Homo sapiens: one gene and its partners. The protein of the gene in region 2 interacts with the protein of the main gene of each other region in a pairwise test. Each region holds a gene or a part of one and is shown on either strand. Other genes may lie near its edges. The genes, in order: LRATD2, TAX1BP1 and TRIM45.

Region 1 (3,751 bases), on a different chromosome or scaffold from region 2:
TACACTAGACGCCAGCTATCAAAAGGCAACATTTCTTCACTCACTCACTCACAGCCCCATAAAACCAGGAAGCAATTCTTGACCTGTGGCCAAATTTTCCCCTAAGGCATCCATCAAGCATTTATTGAGTACCCACTCAGTGCCAGGCATTCAGATATAAAATGGATCAGGGCTTGTTCCCTCTGAGGCTTTATAGTTGGTCAGTTCAAGATATGTTGTTGAGCCACTATTGTGCACCTGAGAACAGCTCATCAAGACAAAAGGAGACACACCTAGTCAGCTAGGCATTGCTTCCTCACCCACCAGATCTCTGACCTAGAGTGCTGGTAGCAAATTGTCCTACAACTGTGTCCTCTCAGTTCAATTCTCCCATTCCCAGCCATCCCAGTAGCACCTAGGAGCAAAGTGGCCTCCCAAATCAGGCAGTAGCAGAGGTCTCCCAATCTGATGAACATAGGATGACCAGCCATAATCTCTATAAGCCTAACTCTTGTCTATAATATGGTGATCATATGATGGCAACAAATATCACTCAGGTAACAGCAGCCCCCCACACCATTTGCTATCAAAAGGACTGGGGTGTGTTGGATTCATTCAGTCACATGCGCCTGAGGCCAGCCAGTCTGAAATTATTGAAACAGAATCGCACAGCACACAGTAGTCTCATGTTGATCTAACTTATACTTCAGACTTGCTGAAGGACTAATTTCTATCACAGCCCTGCCAATATTGATTGTTTGGACTCAAAATTACATAAGTAGAATGATTTTTATTTTTTTCTCCTAAACTAGAAAGGATCACAGTAGTGCTAGTATATTCCTGTTTCCACTGGCTGGTTATACATGCTGGAAAAAATTAGTCAAAAGAAAGCAACTGAAGACAGAATATAGGTCTTGAATCGCATTCTTAAGTCCCCTACGAATAAGTCTGGGTGCTTGCAGTAGTGCCTAAACTTGTTTATTGTAAACAGAGCTGTTAATCCTCCACCCTCACCGGACCCATTATTTTAAAAAAATAAACAACAACAACAACAAAAAAAACACTTTGGTAGCCTACATTTAGGTAAAAGAAACGAAACCAGTGGAGAGGTGGAAGTGTCCTTTTGTGGTGGAGGTTAGTAGGCATTACTGGTCTCCTGTCACTTCCCTAAGTCAACAGGAAGGAAATATATCCACTAGGGCCTCTGCTAATTTGTTTCTAATTTAAGGACAATTAGAATTAGGATGTAGGAATTAGGCAATTCCTACATCCCCTAACCCCCCACCCCCCCAAAAAAAAGCAGTCAGAGCTGCACGCTTCTCTCACTATCCAACGAACTGGTACCTCTCTGGAAATAACGGAGGTTATGAACTTTGTACTAACTTCCAGGGGTATCTAATAAACAGAGCGGTGGTCTTGGGACCCAGTCAGTGAATAAGTCTTCGTTCTGTTTTATACTGTTTCTTTTCTGCGATTTTCTTTTCTACCCCAAAGTTTCCCACTACTAACTCTGAAAACACCTCTAGGATGACGCACTCTTCGAGCTGTCCTGGTGAAGAATCCTTTCTTGTGACCTTTAGGGCAAGAAATATGTTCCAGGAAAGAAAAGAAACGACTGTTCCTCCTTCTCCAGGTACTCTGGGAAAAAACAGGTCAAAGGGAAAAGGCGCAAACACCAAACTCTCCTTCCCTTTCTCATTTCCACACTGGCAAGTTGTGTTTGCCTTCTAACTTGTCTCGGAAGGCAAGCAGAGCTCACAGCACCAGCCCCAGGCGGCGGGTGGATTATTTACAGGGGGATTTAAACCCGCTCCGGCGCGGGGGCGTGGCCGGGCGGAGTCCCGAGGCCCGAGTGGGCGGGGCGGGGGCGGGGCTCCCGGCCGCTCGGCGCAATGTGAAAAAGACCCGAGCTCGGGGAGTGAGCGCCTGTCTCTTTAAATGCCACGGGCTGCGCTCCCGCCCGGGAGCCCGGAGCCGGATCTACAATCCCGTCCCTCCAGCTCCGGTGCTTGTTGCTCGCCCGGCCCAAGCGGGAGCTGTTGCCGCCAGGCTGCGAGGCTGCCGTCCTCTCCTCCTCGCGCCCCACCTCCCCCGAGAGCTGGCTGAGGAGGGGCAGCAGCCCCAGCTGGCGGGAGGAAGCGCGGTGTGAACAGGGATTGCCCCCCGCCTTCAAGTATCGGGGCGCTACGCAGCCGCGGGGGAAAGACATGCCCCTAGTCTGCCCGCTGCGCTGCCCTCTGCCCAGCCTCGCTGCCGCCCGCGCCGGGAGAGGAGGGACTGCCGAGCCTACACCTTCAAACTCGCCCTAGAAGTCTCGGGGCGCGGCAGGGAGCCCTTCCCCAGGCCCCACGGCCTTCACCTCTCCGCGGGTGAGTTTGTGCAGGTAACCCGAGCCTGAGGGCGGGCGCGGGGGAAGGGCGGGCGAGCCGGGAGGAGGTAGCGCTGCAGGTGAGCCAGGTAGGGTGACTCACCTGTCCAGGTCGCGCTCTGAGATCCTCGCTTGTTCCTCTGGGGATGGATGCGTTGGTGGGGAGGAGGCGTCCCCGGGGCTAGTTAGGGCCCGAGGGTGGGAGGGGAAGTTAGCAGAGGAGGGGGGGGATTGGCGTAAAGTTTCTCTTTCCTTCCCTCTTCCTGCCCAAGCTTGGCAGGTAGGGCGCAGGCGGAAGCAGTAGAAGCTGCTGATGCAATGGGCTTTTGCCAGGGCCAGGCGAAGGGCTGGGGACAGGGAGAACAGGAGTTGCCCAGTCTCCTGTGACCGTGACCTTACAGGTGGAGAAACGAGGGAAAGCTCGCTACACCCGAGACTTCCCCCTAAAATGGCTCCAGGTGCTGAGCCCCCACCGATTCTTTTTCGGAACAAAACGCCCTTTTCACGGAGGGGCTCCTGCATGGCTTTCTTGCCTTCCTCTCCCAACAGGTAGCCTCAGCCCCTGTCCGGGGACCTGTGCAAATGACCCTGGAGTTGGTTTCGCTTTCTCCCCTTGCGGCGGTGTGAACGTGTGTCCGCAGCGTGATGGGCAACCAGGTGGAGAAATTGACCCACCTAAGTTACAAGGAAGTTCCCACGGCCGACCCGACTGGCGTGGACCGGGACGACGGGCCCCGCATTGGGGTCTCCTACATTTTCTCCAATGACGATGAGGACGTGGAGCCGCAGCCGCCGCCTCAGGGGCCAGATGGCGGCGGCTTGCCCGACGGTGGGGACGGGCCGCCGCCGCCCCAGCCGCAGCCCTACGATCCGCGGCTGCACGAGGTGGAATGCTCCGTGTTCTACCGGGACGAATGCATCTACCAGAAGAGCTTCGCGCCGGGCTCGGCGGCGCTGAGTACCTACACGCCCGAGAACCTGCTCAACAAGTGCAAGCCGGGCGATCTGGTGGAGTTCGTGTCGCAGGCTCAGTACCCGCACTGGGCCGTATATGTGGGTAACTTCCAGGTGGTGCACCTGCACCGGCTGGAGGTGATTAACAGCTTCCTGACTGACGCCAGCCAGGGCCGTCGCGGCCGCGTGGTCAACGATCTGTACCGCTACAAGCCGCTAAGCTCCAGCGCCGTGGTGCGCAACGCGCTGGCGCACGTGGGTGCCAAGGAGCGCGAGCTGAGCTGGCGCAACTCGGAGAGTTTCGCCGCCTGGTGCCGCTACGGCAAGCGCGAGTTCAAGATCGGCGGCGAGCTGCGCATCGGCAAGCAGCCCTACCGGCTGCAGATTCAGCTGTCGGCGCAGCGCAGCCACACGCTCGAGTTCCAGAGTCTAGAGGACCTGATCATGGAG
Region 2 (3,751 bases):
ACTTTAAAAAATATCAACTTTCTTCTTGTGTCCCCTCTGCTTCTGTTATGGCCAAAGTCCTGCTTTACTGAATATAATGGATATCCCAAAAAGAGACTGTCAATCATGAACCTGGAAACCACTGTAGAGTATCAGGCTAGTTGTCAGCCTCTCCCTACCTGAGGTTTGCAAGCATTCCAAGATAAAGAGTATATTCAGTAGCAATCCCCCTTTACCTCTGCACTAATAAAGGGACTTTGCTACCAGCAACCATATTTCATGGAAAGACTTAACTATGAATACTCTCTACCTGGTAACCTAAAGCCATCAGAAAAATGAACAGGTAGCATTTACAAACACTGGAGAACTCTGCCTAAAATAACTGAAGAGTTTTATTATTTTGTTTCTTTGAGTTGTCTGAGCTAATTTGGGCTCCCAGGGAGGTCATGATACTAATGAAGTCATTAATGATTATCTCAAGTCACTGGCTTCACAAAGGAAAAAAAAAAAAACACCAATTCCAGTTCTTTAAAAAAAAAAGAAAAAAAAAAAACTCACTACTGGTTACAAGACACCAACAAAAGAAACTATAGCTAAATCAACAGAACCAACATCTATTAGATACAACTACCAAAACTGAATTAAGAGAATAATATTTTTCTATGAAGTGAGTGAATAGTCACGCTTCCTTTAAGAAAGATATTCAGTAAGAAGGAAATAAACTAGCTTAGAATAAACGTCCCATGTTTTTAATCAAAAGCTGATTAAGGATAATACTTTTTTCTTAAAATTTAACATATCATTTCCTAAAATAAATTAAACCAACAAAGCTGTAACTATTTTTTTTATAAAACAAGGCAAAAGTGTTTCAACTTCTGTTAACCTCAATTATAACAGTTTTTTAAAAACCCACAATCCAACCTTATACTTTTAGTTCACTGAAGTTTTTGAGGTACAAAATAGCACATAGGTATACATATATGTATTTGTATATGTTTACAAATGCATCAAAAGGAACTCAAGAAGTATACACTATAGAGTTAATAGTCTTATAAGGGATGTGTGTAAAAAGAAGACTTAAGGACCTTAAATTTTACATCAATTTATTGTTTGAATTTTTACAAGTATATATAAATGTATTATTTCTATTGTTTTAAATAGCCCTATTAACAAGAAATTCCATTTTTAAACCCTCCCCTGAATTTCACATTTTCTAATAGAAAACACTAGTATTTCACTTTAAAATATAGTATTCACAATGGTTACAAGTCTGAAAAGTAAAATAATTTGTGATTATCCTATTAATGGCCTTCATTAATCTCTCTCCAACACTCCAATCTTTTTAAAATTTCATTGCTATAATTATAGAAATATTTTACAAAAGTCATTCCAGTACCTTGTCATTTTTTACTCTTATTAAATTACAATATAGCTACTAATCATTTAAAAAGTTTACATGGATGAATGCAATCAAATATAATTATGTCATTATCAACCCATTTTAAATAATAAAATTTCTAATTCCCACATAGTTCCTCTGGTTCACTCCTCCTACAGATAACAGACTTAGGCAAGCTTACAAAAATGTTGGAATTCACTGAGAATGTCAAGGTCGCACGGGAGTGGAGAAATAATATGCAAAGTCACTGCATCACCTTGTGGTAATGCCTGGGAAGTGTAGCTTCACTAACATCCTGAGAAAAAGTACAAACCTCCTCTCAGTTGGAGAGAAGTACACTCCCTACACAAAAAGGAAAGTAGAAGCAAGCAGCTTTACCATGTCAAATTCTGATTCCCCTTCTCTAAAGTGCACCTCTACAAACAGGAGTATAGTAAGTAGGCAAGCCAAGGATAAGTATGAAACGTCCAGTCAACAATTAAGGGGCCAGACACATTTGGCTGGGAAACAAAATCAGAAATGCTTATACATGCTGGCTACAGTGCCCTCTTCCAGGTTTCCTACTACACTTCCCCAAGTTCCAATGCCTCTAGAATTTCTTTATGTGTGTTATGCTGTAAACTGTATATTATAAAGTCTTTGGTCTAAATTCCAATTTTATTATTTTGCGAATGCATTAATGTCTATAAAAAAGATAAATAATATATAGTGGGCACTCAGTTATGTATACAGCTAAAATAAACATGGGGTGGGGGCAGGGAAGCATTTCAATGTTATCTTTACTTACTCCTCTTGTAACTTTTTCAAGCCCAAAGCAGATTTGACTTTTGTGGTAGTATTTTTCCAGTGGTTCCCAATACTTGTTTTACTTTAGCCCAAAAATGTAAGCCTTAGTGAACTTACTGAAAAATAGACCATAGTAAGAACTTCTGTACATTAAACATATGAAGCCAAATTAAGCTTTTTAATTTAGATAAATACTAAATATAATTTGCCAGTCCTAACAATTAGAATTCAAAAATAAGGTAATTTTGTTATGTGTGATAATATAATTATGGTGATTCTGTGTTTTTCTAGTCTTTATCATTTAAAGATACTAAACTAGGCCGGGTGCGGTGGCTCACGCCTGTAATCCCAGCACTTTGGGAGGCCGAGGCGGGCGGATCACGAGTTCAGGAGATCGAGACCATCCTGGCTAACACGGTGAAAACCCATCTCTACTAAAAATACAAAAAATTAGCCGGGCGAGGTGGCAGGCGCCTGTAGTCCCAGCTACTCGGGAGGCTGAGGCAGGAGAATGGCGTGAACCCTGGGGGGCGGAGCCTGCAGTGAGCTGAGATCACGCCATTGCACTCCAGCCTGGGTGACAGCGAGACTCCGTCTCAAAAATAAAAAATAAATAAAAATAAAAAATAAAGATACTAGGCCGGGCGCGGTGGCTCACGCCTGTAATCCCAGCACTTTGGGAGGCCGAGGCGGGTGGATCATGAGGTCAGGAGATCGAGACCATCCTGGCTAACAAGGTGAAACCCCGTCTCTACTAAAAATACAAAAAATTAGCCGGGCGCGGTGGCGGGCGCCTGTAGTCCCAGCTACTCGGGAGGCTGAGGCAGGAGAATGGCGTGAACCCGGGAAGCGGAGCTTGCAGTGAGCCGAGATTGCGCCACTGCAGTCCGCAGTCCGACCTGGGCGACAGAGCGAGACTCCGTCTCAAAAAAAAAAAAAAAAAAAAAAAAAAAAAAAAAAAAAAAAAAAAAAAAATAAAGATACTAAACTAACTGTAAGTGAAATGTCTTGATGTCTAAGATTTGCTTTAAAAACTCCAGGGGAAAAAATTAATGTTAGAGGGGGTAATAAAACAAGATTAGTAAAGTGTCGGTTCATTTTACTGTTCATTCTCCTTTGTGTATGTTTGAAAATTTCTGTAATAGTAAAACCAAAGCAAATAAAGAAATGAAACAGATTAGTAACACTCCACATATGACCCACTGTAGCAGAAACACTGCATTTTAGAATATGAACGCTTTGTACCCTTAGAAGTGTTGTAATTCAGGTAATGGTTGATAGAGTTACTGAAAGTTTTTCACATCTTCAGCTAAAAAACCTTTAGAATTATCTCCAAACTTTAATCCGATAGGACACACAAACATATGAAAGGAAAAAATGTCCAGCATTCAAATAGTTTCCAATTATTCACACTGTGGCTCAAAAAAAGAAAGACTAACAACTCTCAACAGACCTCTGCTCCCAAAAAATGTAATCAGCAATTTTTCTAGGAGGCAACAGCAAAAGCCCCAGTCTATTAATTTGCACCCTTGCAGACATCCCTATTTCCAGAATCCTTTACACCTGAGTGCCAAGACATTCCGCCCA
Region 3 (3,751 bases), on a different chromosome or scaffold from region 2:
CCCCTTATTTCCTGTTACTGATTCTGTTTGCCCCTAGGCGGCAGAAGAAAACGACTTACCACACCATGGTGGACCTAAAAGACTTGAAAGGCTACAGCCGGATTGGGAAGCCCATCCTGTGTCCTGTTCACCCTGCAGAGGAACTGAGGCTGTTCTGTGAGTTCTGTGACCGGCCCGTGTGCCAGGATTGTGTGGTGGGGGAGCATCGGGAACACCCCTGTGACTTCACCAGCAATGTCATCCACAAGCATGGGGACTCTGTGTGGGAGCTCCTCAAAGGTACTCAGCCCCACGTGGAGGCCCTGGAGGAAGCCCTGGCTCAGATCCACATAATAAACAGTGCCCTCCAGAAGCGAGTGGAGGCAGTGGCAGCTGATGTCCGGACATTCTCGGAGGGCTACATTAAGGCCATTGAGGAGCATCGGGACAAGCTGCTGAAGCAGCTGGAAGACATACGGGCCCAGAAGGAAAATTCCCTGCAGCTGCAGAAGGCCCAGCTGGAACAGTTACTGGCAGACATGCGGACTGGAGTGGAGTTCACCGAGCACTTGCTGACCAGCGGCTCAGACTTGGAGATCCTCATCACCAAGAGGGTGGTGGTAGAACGGCTCAGGAAGCTGAACAAAGTTCAATATAGCACCCGTCCTGGAGTAAATGATAAGATACGCTTCTGTCCTCAGGAGAAAGCAGGCCAGTGCCGTGGCTATGAAATTTATGGTACGATTAATACCAAAGAGGTTGATCCAGCCAAATGTGTCCTACAAGGAGAAGGTAGGAAGGCATTTCCCATTGACATTGAGAGGGCAGTGGACAGGGAGGTGGTGTGTGAAGATTGGTGGCTTGTTCTGCTAGGAAGCATGCCCTACTGACCAGGTTACCAAAGGTGGGGAGATAAACTGATCTGAAAGACAGTGACCCCCACCTTTGCCCTTTCTGGTTTGTTCTGGCTAGGGTACAGTTAATACAGGAGTGAGGCTTGACCCTTTTCCAGTTCAGAGAAGTAATAATGGCTGAGAAACACACAGATCATGTTTTGTTTCTATCAGATGGCAGAACAGAGACAGTGCCCGTTGGAGGTAACAGCAGTGACTAGGGCCAGGTGAAATTCTGCCTGCTCAGAGAGGAGCATGGCAGGCCCTGGATTCCTAGATCAAGTTCTGAAGGGAGTTTCAGAGGAATGAGGAAGATGAGATTACGGTTTCCTTTCCTTTAGGCCCTTTTTGGTTCACATCAACTTTACTGGCATTTAAAAGGATATGGTAGGTGTTTCATTTAATTGGGGGAAAAAATGGTTTTTTTTAACGAGTGTTCCCTTTCTAATGGAAGCATATTATTAAAACATATGTTTCACAGGTCAGTAGGTCAGTCCTGATAGGAAGATTGCATCTTAATGACACAGGCATTCTTAACTGTTTGGAAGCCATAGATCTCTTTGAGAATGTTCTCTCCTACAGAAACACCCAGTAACTTGTGCATACAATTCCAGATTTTTAGACTCTTCATAAGCCTTTCCATAGACCTCATAGTAGTTCATGAACCTCAGGTTAAGAAACCCTGTTTCATCTGAATGCTGGAGTAGGGGCTGTAGCTACTGGATATCCCCCCAGTACCTTGGCATGAGCTACCAAGTTGCAGAGGATCTCAAAACATGGAGGGTCGTGAGGCTGGTCAGCTGTACTCCCTGCCTAGCCCAGCAGGATCTGGAGCTTAGGGAGGGTGGTTTTGGGGTTACTATCCTCTCTCACAGGGTCTAGAGGTTTTCTTTAAATACCTCGGTCAGTCGTGAGTATTTTTAAAGCATAGGACCTTCAGTCCTAGGACTGAAGGTAAGGTCCAGGATCCTGTGTGATCCAAAGCAGCTGCTAGCTGAGAGAACCAGGCCAACCAGGAAGGACTCCCAAGAGGCGTACTCTGGGAGGCAGAAGGGGAAGAGAAAACAAAGGGACCCAGGGTGGTTACAGTAAAGTACAACCCTTTGTTCTGAAGAGAAAAAGCAAGATGGAGATGTAGTCACTGCAGTTTACATTCGAGGTGAGGACCGAGTGTTTATCTTTTTCAGACCTCCACAGAGCCCGGGAGAAACAGACGGCCTCTTTCACCCTGCTTTGTAAGGATGCCGCAGGAGAAATCATGGGCAGGGGAGGAGACAACGTTCAAGTTGCCGTTGTCCCTAAAGATAAGAAAGACAGGTTTGTATGACACAATTAGGTGTCATGGATAACAGGCAGTGAGAAAACTGGAAACATGAGGTCCTTTAAGATATTGGAGCTGGGCACAGTGGCTCATGCCTGTAATCCCAGCACTTTGGGAAGTGGAGGCAGGAGGATCGCTTAAGCCCAAGAGTTCAAGACCAGCCTGGGCAACATAGGGACACCCTGTCTCTACAAAATTAAAAAAAAAAAAATTAGCCGGGAGTGGAGGCATATGCCTATAATCCCAGCTATTCAGGAGGCTGAGATGGGAGGATCCCTTGAGCCCAGGAGGTCGAGGTTGCAGTGAGCTGTGATTGTGCCAGTGCACTCCAGCCTGGGCAACAGAGCAAGACCCCAGGTCCAAAAAAAAAAAAAAGATATTGGAGTGTAACTCACTAGTTACGTCTTACCTCCCCATAATACTATGAAACGTTACGTGACCAAATGTGTTTTCTTGTGTGGGTTTTGTATTCAATTCTCTCTCAAAGCTATGGTCTGCCCCTCAGATTGTTTTCATCTCAAGCTTTAGAATAAGTTGAAAAATATTCTGTGTTAGACTGAATGGTACCCTTTTCAAAATTCAGTCTCCCTTTGGTACTAAATTATGCCTGGAGCATGTTTATATTTCTCTGGAATTGTAGAATGGAGGAGGGACAACAGAGCAAGAGGGTTCAACAGAAGCCTGTTGAAAAGGACACAATAATATATTCAAGGAATTTGTCTGAATATCAGACTAAATTGGAATTTATGCTGTTTACCTTCTGTTGTAAAATTAACTTCTGAAGCAAATGGAAGAAGCATCCTGTTTGGGTATATTTAACATTAATACTGAATGGGATGGTGTAGAGTTTACATTCTGAAATAGTAGCAACTGAAGCCAGCTTGTGGAAGTGAGTGGTGTTTTGACTCTTATCTCCATTCAGCCCAGTCAGAACAATGGTCCAGGATAACAAGGATGGGACATACTACATTTCCTACACCCCCAAGGAACCTGGCGTCTATACTGTGTGGGTCTGCATCAAAGAACAGCATGTGCAGGTAAGACTGGTGCACGTGCTTCCCTGAGCTCCCTGGATTCTACTGTCTTAGGATCTGGAGACATTTCACATAGGATCAGCTATACAGAGAGATTGAATAGAATCCCCATGTCTTCTTCTTCACTTTAGAAACAGCCCAGATTTTGCTACTCTTATTCTTCCTGGAGGATGCTGTTGACCATAAGAACCCTGTATCCCTGTGTCACCTCCAGGCAGTTATGCTTATAGCTTATCATTCTCCCAGTTGGTTTCTTAGGATTCTTAATATGGAGAAGATGTCTTGATCACAGGGGGTGATCTGCCAGCAGACAACCATGCATATTCAAAAAATATAATCTAGCTCAGGATTTTCCAGTTTTGTCCAGACTGTGTCTGGACATGAACACAGTTGAGAGGGTTATGCCCCCTCCTCACAATTGACTAGTCATCTATCTGCCTAACCATCTGCTCATGTAATTTTCTACTCTGTTTTACATATAGGTTTTTCTGTTACTATGGTTCCTATAAACAAACAAATATACC

What was found.
Region 1: the proteins of TAX1BP1 (region 2) and LRATD2 interact in binary tests that used the Homo sapiens proteins (3 or more experiments, as listed by UniProt).
Region 3: the proteins of TAX1BP1 (region 2) and TRIM45 interact in binary tests that used the Homo sapiens proteins (3 or more experiments, as listed by UniProt).

The regions. Positions count from the first base shown.
Region 1 is NC_000008.11:126,556,631-126,560,381, reverse strand, and holds the start of LRATD2 (protein LRATD2), read left to right. Parts: upstream 1-1,903; 5' UTR 1,904-2,348; exon of another isoform or gene 2,349-2,896; 5' UTR 2,897-2,992; coding exon 2,993-3,751.
Region 2 is NC_000007.14:27,743,156-27,746,906, reverse strand, and holds part of TAX1BP1 (tax1-binding protein 1), read right to left. Parts: intron 1-3,751.
Region 3 is NC_000001.11:117,115,054-117,118,804, reverse strand, and holds part of TRIM45 (E3 ubiquitin-protein ligase TRIM45), read left to right. Parts: intron 1-37; coding exon 38-771; intron 772-2,059; coding exon 2,060-2,189; intron 2,190-3,115; coding exon 3,116-3,230; intron 3,231-3,751. UniProt on the Homo sapiens protein: E3 ubiquitin-protein ligase that plays a role in the regulation of inflammatory response.